Homo sapiens: one gene and its partner. The protein of the gene in region 1 purifies or fractionates together with the protein of each later gene. This does not show direct contact. Each region holds a gene or a part of one and is shown in the gene's direction. Other genes may lie near its edges. The genes, in order: ZNF385A and LIN28B.

What was found.
Region 2: the proteins of ZNF385A (region 1) and LIN28B purify together in Homo sapiens (co-immunoprecipitation; one large-scale study listed by IntAct). This does not show direct contact.

The regions. Positions count from the first base shown.
Region 1 is NC_000012.12:54,374,596-54,378,416, reverse strand, and holds part of ZNF385A (zinc finger protein 385A), read left to right. Parts: intron 1-2,462; coding exon 2,463-2,573; intron 2,574-3,821. UniProt on the Homo sapiens protein: RNA-binding protein that affects the localization and the translation of a subset of mRNA. May play a role in adipogenesis through binding to the 3'-UTR of CEBPA mRNA and regulation of its translation.
Region 2 is NC_000006.12:105,026,401-105,030,221, forward strand, and holds part of LIN28B (protein lin-28 homolog B), read left to right. Parts: coding exon 1-82; intron 83-3,821. UniProt on the Homo sapiens protein: Suppressor of microRNA (miRNA) biogenesis, including that of let-7 and possibly of miR107, miR-143 and miR-200c.

The DNA.
Region 1 (3,821 bases):
GGGCAGGTGGGAGGGGACTGTTTTATGGACCTTTCGAGGCCGTGTCCAAGCCAGCATCCCAGGGAAGAAGCTCTGGAGTGAGATGGGCTCTGGGAGGTGCTGGCTTTCACCCCTCCCCAGGGAGCCCTCATCTAGGTCACCGGGGCCTCCTGACCTTGGCCTGGAGCAGCACTTCAGTGGCTCACATTCCACCTGCACAGGGATTGGGCCCAGGAGTCCTCACTTTCATCCTGGTGTCTCCTTAGTTCCTGGAGGAGGGTGGGAAGCACCCACCTGACTCCACTGCTGCCCTCTTCCCCACTCCCCACTCCCACTCCTAGTTGGTGTTTATGGACTTAAACCAGGGGAGGGGGTTGTGCAAAAGCTAAGGTTCTCACCCTGGAGGAAGGACCCAGGTAGGGCAGGAACCATTCTCATGGTATGGATGTTGGGGTGGCCAGTCCACAAGTCATCCTCGGGGTACTGTGTCCTCAGCCCCTCTGGAGAGCAGGCTGGCATGATGGGGCAGAGCATAGGCAGAACTAGGAGACTCTGCTTCCCCCTTCCATCCCACTCCTCTCTCCCTACTGTTTTCATCCAACTTGGGTTTCCTGGCCCAACTTGAGTTTCTGTTTGAATTCCCATTCCCCACCCAGCATGTGAGGAAGCCCAGGGCTGAGGAGAACTCTGGAACAGAGTTGGGGGTCTCTAAATAGGAAGGATTAAGGCCTGGAGACTGGGAACTGAGAGCAGCAGTCTGTCTCCCCTTTCTGATTAAAGACTGTCTCCAACTTGGTCTGTCTTTCTTTCTGCCAAACACATCATACATTTACACAGATAAACACACAGCTGAAGATTACACCACCTGACCATTCATGGTGCCATCAAAGCCCCCGACGCAGAAATGTTGATATATAAATGATGTACGCACAGTACATGACACTTATTCACACTCCACCCATGCACAGATTGATCACAGCCTGCCTAACACACACAGACACACCCGTTCTCCTGTTTGGCTTTTCCCTGGATGTGACTGGGGCTTCTGGGAAGCTGAGGTAAAAAAAAGTGAGCCCTTAGAGAGGCTTCTTTCCAACCAAGAGTAGGCCAAGAGATTGACACTTGTCAGTCAGACCAGTTGTCTGAACCCAGTCCTGGTCCCTGCCTTCAGCACTACCCAAATGGAGAGTGGATGAGGCCACCATCTATTTCACAGGGATACGAAAGCCCATTTCCTGACATTAACCCCACCCAGCCAGTGAAACTACTGGTGAGAGGAAAGGAGAGTCCAGAGGACAGGGCTTTCCAGACTCTTACTACTTTCCCCCACTTCTTGTTCTCTCACCAGTGTCTCATTGGAAACCCTAAAGACCTGTCACAGAGATGGGCTCGGCTGAGGAGATAAGGACCCCAAGTCCCCAGCAACTATTTTTCACTTGATCCCTCCACCCAGAAGATAAGGTTTTGTCCTAATTCAGTCCCATTCTTATGAGAGAGCCCAGCCATCCCCCAATCTTCAGTCTCAGCTGCATTCCAGGCTTTCCTCTCCCTAGCTGCCTAGAGGCCAAAAGGGAGGAGAACTGTTGAGGGAGGCAGTTTTCACACCTCTGAGCCCCTGGTTTTCATCCCCTGATAGCAGAAAGCCTCAGAGAAACTCCCGTCCTCTCCCTTACTCATGTGAACTCTTGGCAGGAGACTGCAAAGACGTCTGCTGACCCAGGGTGGGGACAGGGATGGTTCCTAATCCCGCCCAGCCCCACAGCTCTGCCCTAGAAACCCTGATGATCAGGGAGAAAAGGTTCAGAAGATCCCTGGGCTGCCTCGGGCCAGCCCAGCTGCTTAGGTCCCCCCATTTAGTCCCCATGATTCACTAGAGCTCCTACTCTCTCCTGAGTTCTTTTACTCCCTCTAGAAGTTGCTGCCCTTAAGAGGTCCAGAGAGTGTGTGTGTTAGGGCGACCAGGGATCCAGAGTTGGGAGGCTGGGAACATCTGTCTCCTGGGACTAGAGGCTGGGCTTGGTGATAGTCTTACCCCAGAGTGGAGGCCCAAAGGGCTCAGAGGCTTCAGCTGAAGGCCCTAGGATCTAGGGTGCTTTGGGACTTCATGTCAGAGGCCTCTGGTGGATTGGCTTCACTGTAGGAGATAAGTCAAGGTGACACAGTTGTATGTTCATGGTATGATGGACCAAGGCAGGAATCCAGGTTCAGATACCAGATCTGCTATTAACTCATGGTGTGACGTTGGGCAAACCACTTCTATGTCCTGTAAAATGGGAGCATTGGGCCAGTTATCGATCAGGTCCCTTTCAGTGCTATGAAGATTGGGCTAAGAGAGAATCAGAAGACTGAGGCTCAGATCCCTCAGGCATATTAAGGGATAGAAGGGGTCTGGGGACCTTGGTTCAACACAGATATCTGTGTTGGGGGAATGCTGGACATGAGTTGCGCTAGGGTTCCCGGCTCACCCCAGCCTGCCTCCACAGATGGACCCTGTGCAGAAGGCTGTGCTCTCCCACACTTTTGGGGGACCCTTGCTCAAGACCAAGCGGCCCGTCATTTCCTGTAATATCTGTCAAATCCGCTTCAATTCTCAGGTAAGAAGCCAAGCTGCTCATCTACCCAGTGGGTGGGGCAGGGGCAGCAGGGGAACTTGAGGGAGGGCAGAGGCTGGGTGAGAACACTTACTCTGGTTGAGGGGCAGGGATTAAGGGGATATTAGGCAAAGAGCAGGGAATGGGGATACCGCAGGAGGGGCAGGGTCTTGTGGAAGGCACTGGAGAGACACAAGAAGTTGCTGTGTATTTTGACATGAAGTAGATCAGTCCTCTAAAGTTGACCTCTCCCTCCCTTGAGACTTGGGCATCCGTGGTTCAGAGCTTCTTGGAACATAGGTGGCCATCAGTGTCTGAGCAGGAGTGTGGCCTCTGGCCCACTGGTTCTTGGGTATGGGGCAGAGTTAGGTCATTGGCTCCCCCACAGAGCCTCTGTCCTCTTTGGCCTCTGCTAAACTCCTCCTTGGCCCACCCACTTCGCTCTAACTTTCTGGCTTCCTTCTCTCTCCACCCCATTTCTACTCTCCTCCCTCCAAATCACACACAAGGCCTGGCCCCTACTCTTATCCCATGGGGCTTTCCCCTGGGGAGAAGCTACCCCAAACCCAAAACCCAGATGTTCAGCCTCCCAGATTTCCTCCCTCTGAGGCTCCACTGGGACTCTGTGGAGTGTGTGTGGCTCTAGAGGGGACTTTGTGGGGTGCAGGCCCTGAGAGCTTTTGGAGAAAAACAGCAGAGCCTCGTTCTGCTGAGTAGGGGAAAATAAAAGCATGTTCTGTTTCTCTACCCAGTACAGAGACACACACACACACACACACTCCATACTACTGGGCTCTGCACACTGCTACTTTACCCCTGGGCTGTCAATCTTCTTTTCCTGCCTATCCACACCTTTTATTTCTGCCCTTGTCTGGGTGACCCTGTGCCTCCAGGATGGTACATTCTTAGCAGGGGTATACATGGGAGTGGAGCAGGGTGGGGAAGGGAAGACAGGACTAACCCAGCATCAGGCCTCTGCTTTAGCTTGGACCCCAGGCATCCTGTCTATCAACCCTGGCTCCACTCACTGGTGGATGGTGGAAGACTAGAGGGGCAGGGAGCCAACAGCAGATAGCCCTTCCCACTTTTTGCCCTACCCTCCCCTCCCCCATCAAATGGTTCTGTTTTGACAGCTGTCTCCACTGCTGTTTTCTGTCCCCAGAGCTGGGCTCGGGGCCAGGGTCCTCCAGGGTGTCCACAGAGGCTTCAGGGAAAATGAGACCCAAGGGGAAGTAGTCAGGACAGAGCCCA
Region 2 (3,821 bases), on another chromosome or scaffold:
GACCTGGTGGGAGCCCCTGTTTAGGAAGTGAAAGAAGACCCAAAGGGAAGACACTACAGAAAAGAAAACCAAAGGGAGATAGGTAATCATTTTTACTTTGTTAATTTATCAGTTTATTGTGTTTGGAAAGGATTTCTGAAAATGTTTTCATCTTACTGCATTTCATATTGTCTAGCCAAAGGAAACCACCATCATGTAGAATATATTAAATATCAGAAATATAGGCTATCTTGCAGTTTGAATTATCTGCAGAATGTACTGAACTGAGCCTTCAGCATTAAGCACTGAATAGTTCCTTGACCACCTTTTCCACCAGACTGTTCTGAGACCCCAGTTGAGGAGTTGAAGTTCCCAATAGATAGAGGTGCCCCTTTTTACACCCAGAATTTGCCAAACACCTCACCTCTTTTTTCAAATGAAAATGTACCTATTGTTTTGTCTGTTTTTGAAAGACAGCTCACGTATAGAAAGTCCAAATAATATAAAAACCGTAAAGAGGAAAAAATCACTTGAAATCCTAGAGGTGGGAATTATAATATATATGGTATTTTGAAACTTGTAATTTTTTTCACCTAATAGTATATTATAGAATATTTCATGTCAATTGTTATCACTTCATAAATTTTACTATTTGAATGTACCAAAATATAATTTAAAGAATAATATGTTAGTGGATATTTAGGCTACCTCATGTATTTTGAATTGATCAATAACACCACTGTGGGAACTCTTAGATGTACATTTTTGAAAAGTTGTCTGATTATATCTTTAGGGTAAATACTTAATAGTGAAAATCTGGATCAAAAAAATATGTATTTTAAAAATTTCAATACCTAGTTCTAAACTACTCTCCAGAAATGATTAGCGGGCCAGTATGTAACACCTCTGAAAGTGAGACAGCTCATTGAATGTTGTCTTTTTAAAATCTTTTCCAGTTACATAGGTTAGAGATGTAGCTCATTGTTTGTTTGTGGTTTTTTTCACATTATTTGATTACTTTGGAGGTTGAATATATTTTATATGTTTTCATTTTTTTCTTCTAAGAATTGTACATTTCTTGTCCATTGACCATTTTCTATTGAGATGTTTGTTTGTTATTATTGATTTCTAAGTTCTCTTGATATATTTAGGATATGAATCTTTCTTCTCAAATAAAAAATAAGAAATTTTTTTAGCTTATAAAATATATTTTATCTTTAATGATAGTTTTTAAAAAGTATTTTGAAGTTTTGAATTTTTTACAGACAAGTCTGTGACTCTCCTTGATGTTACCTGACTTTATTTCATTTTCCAAACTACAAAATTAAAAATATGCTATATTCATTTATGTTTTTAGTATTATTTTAGTTAATTTATATTTTACACTTAAGTATCTCTTCTCTTTATAATCTAATTTGCTTTTGAAGAAAGAACTGTAAAGGTCTAGGTTTTCTTTTCTCTCCAAATTGGTAACCAGTTATCTCTGTAGCACTTGTTGCCTATTTCATATTTTCCTATTGGTTTGAAAAGCTATCCAGTGAAACAATAAATTCCATTTTCATTGACATTTTTAGGAGCTCATTTTGTACAAAAGAAAGTCCATGAATGTGTGTGAAAGTTTAATGATACACTTAGCTATTAAAGTGGTTTTCTGCTCCCATGGAGATAATACCTGCATACATACTTAAATACGTACAAGTAAAGCAAAGTAAAATAAAACAGCCCTTTATTTTTCCATGTCTTTTAGATAAAATCTTTAACAAAGTAGTTCTAGAATGCTTTACATTCCAATTCTGGGTTGGAATCAGTATGTGAGGGAGAATAGTGGAGGTTGAGATTTGAAGAGTAAGATGGCAGGACATTTTTTCATATTGGATCTTGTCAACCATTTTAAGGACTTTGATTCTGGAGAAAATAGGAAGTCATTGGGAAATTTTAGGTTGAAAAGTAACATGATCTGATTTACTCAGAGTATCATTCTGGCAGCTGCAATGACAGCACAATGTGGAGAGGCAAGGATAGAAGCTGAAAGACCACTAAAGAAGAAGTTCCAATAATACAGAAAAGAGCTAGTGGTGGTTTGGACAAGGGTAGTAGCAGTAGAAGTGGTGAACAAAAATTCTGATATGTTTTGAAGGAAGAGACCATAGAATTTACTGATGGATTGATTAGATTTGGACTATCAGAGGAAAAGAGTCCAGGGTGACTCCAAGGTTTTTTGGCCTATACAACAGGAAAGATGAAGGGACTATTTATCAAGATGGGGAAACCTACAGAAGGAGCCTGAAATCAAAAGTATAGTTTCAGACATTTAATTAGAGATACATAATGCACATCCAAGTGAAGATGTATATTAGGCAGATGGATGCACTATATGGAGTTCCAGCACTGGAGTTAAAAAATTGGCAACATTTAGCAAAAAGATGATATTTACAGCCACAAGAGGAGATAAGATCACCATCACAGTGAGTATACATAGGTAAGAAGAGGACTAAGCCCTGGGGCACTCTAGCATTTAAGAGTCAAGAAGAGGGAGGAACAGCAAAGGGCACTAAGTAAGAAGGTGGGAAATAGGAGGGAAAGTCAGGGAAAGAAAATATTTCAAGAAAGGGTATCAGGTATGTTAAATGGTGCTGATGGTGAAATGATCAAGTAAGATAACCATTGAAACTTGACCGCTTAGCAACACGGAAGTCATTATTGAGGTCTGAGGTTGACAAGAACGGGCTGAGTGGACTGGTGGGGGTGAAAGCCTTCGTGGGTTGTGTTCAATACAGAGAATGAAAACAGAGGAAGCAGAGACAGCAAGTTTAGACAATCTTTTGAGAAGTGTTTCTATAATAAATGGGAGGAAAGAAACAAAGCAGTGGCTAAATGGAAGAAATTATAGCATGTTTATATGTTCATAGGAATGGTCTAGTGCAAAGGAAAGATTGAACATGCAGGAGAGAGGAGAACGATTACTGGAGTGATTTCCTTGAGTGGGTGACAGTATTGGGATTTAAAGCACAACTGGGGGAGCTGATCATGTGAGTACAGAAGGTTCATTCTTACAAACCTGGAGGAAAGGCGTAGCTTATGGGCACAGATGCAGGTGGTAGATAGATATGAAGGTAGGATAAGGCGAGATTTCTCTTTTTTATGCTGGTTTTTTTTTTCTTTGAATTTGAAGCACGGTCATCAACTGAGAGTGATGGTAGAAGAGTAGGTTTGGAAATTTAACAAGAAAGACGTATAAAATAGAAGAATGAACACATTATAGAAAAGAGGTAGAATTTCAGGCTGTGCCAAAGACCCACATAAGAATAGTGGGTACGAATTTAAAGTCAGTTAATGTGATTGTGTTTTTTCTCCAGCCATTGTTGACTTCATGGCTACAGCTGTAAAACAGTCATTAAAATGATTTAACTAGAGTTGAGGTTTTTCCTAGTTGAGAATGACAAAGGGCACTGGAGATGTATGCAGGGCAGCAAATGTAATGATGGATGATAGAATATAAACTGTATAAAGAGTGAAGACATTGAAAAGGTGGTAAGTAAACACATGGGGTGTGGGTTGCAGTGGAGTCAAAGAATTATAGTTGGGGTACTGATCTGGCAAGGTACGAGGTGGTGGTGGTCAGAAGTGAATAACTGTTCCAACTCCTTACTCTTACTGTGTGTCTTATTGTAATTAAAGCTTTGACACACTTAATATCTAATAATTTCCAACTTTCTATTAAGCTAAGGGTGTCCATAATTTTTGTCACTAGGATTAGCAATTCCAGTTTTCCATGTGCTGCTTGTTTTTACAAAATGGTGTAGAGACAACATACAATAAAATATTCAATAAACATAGAGACT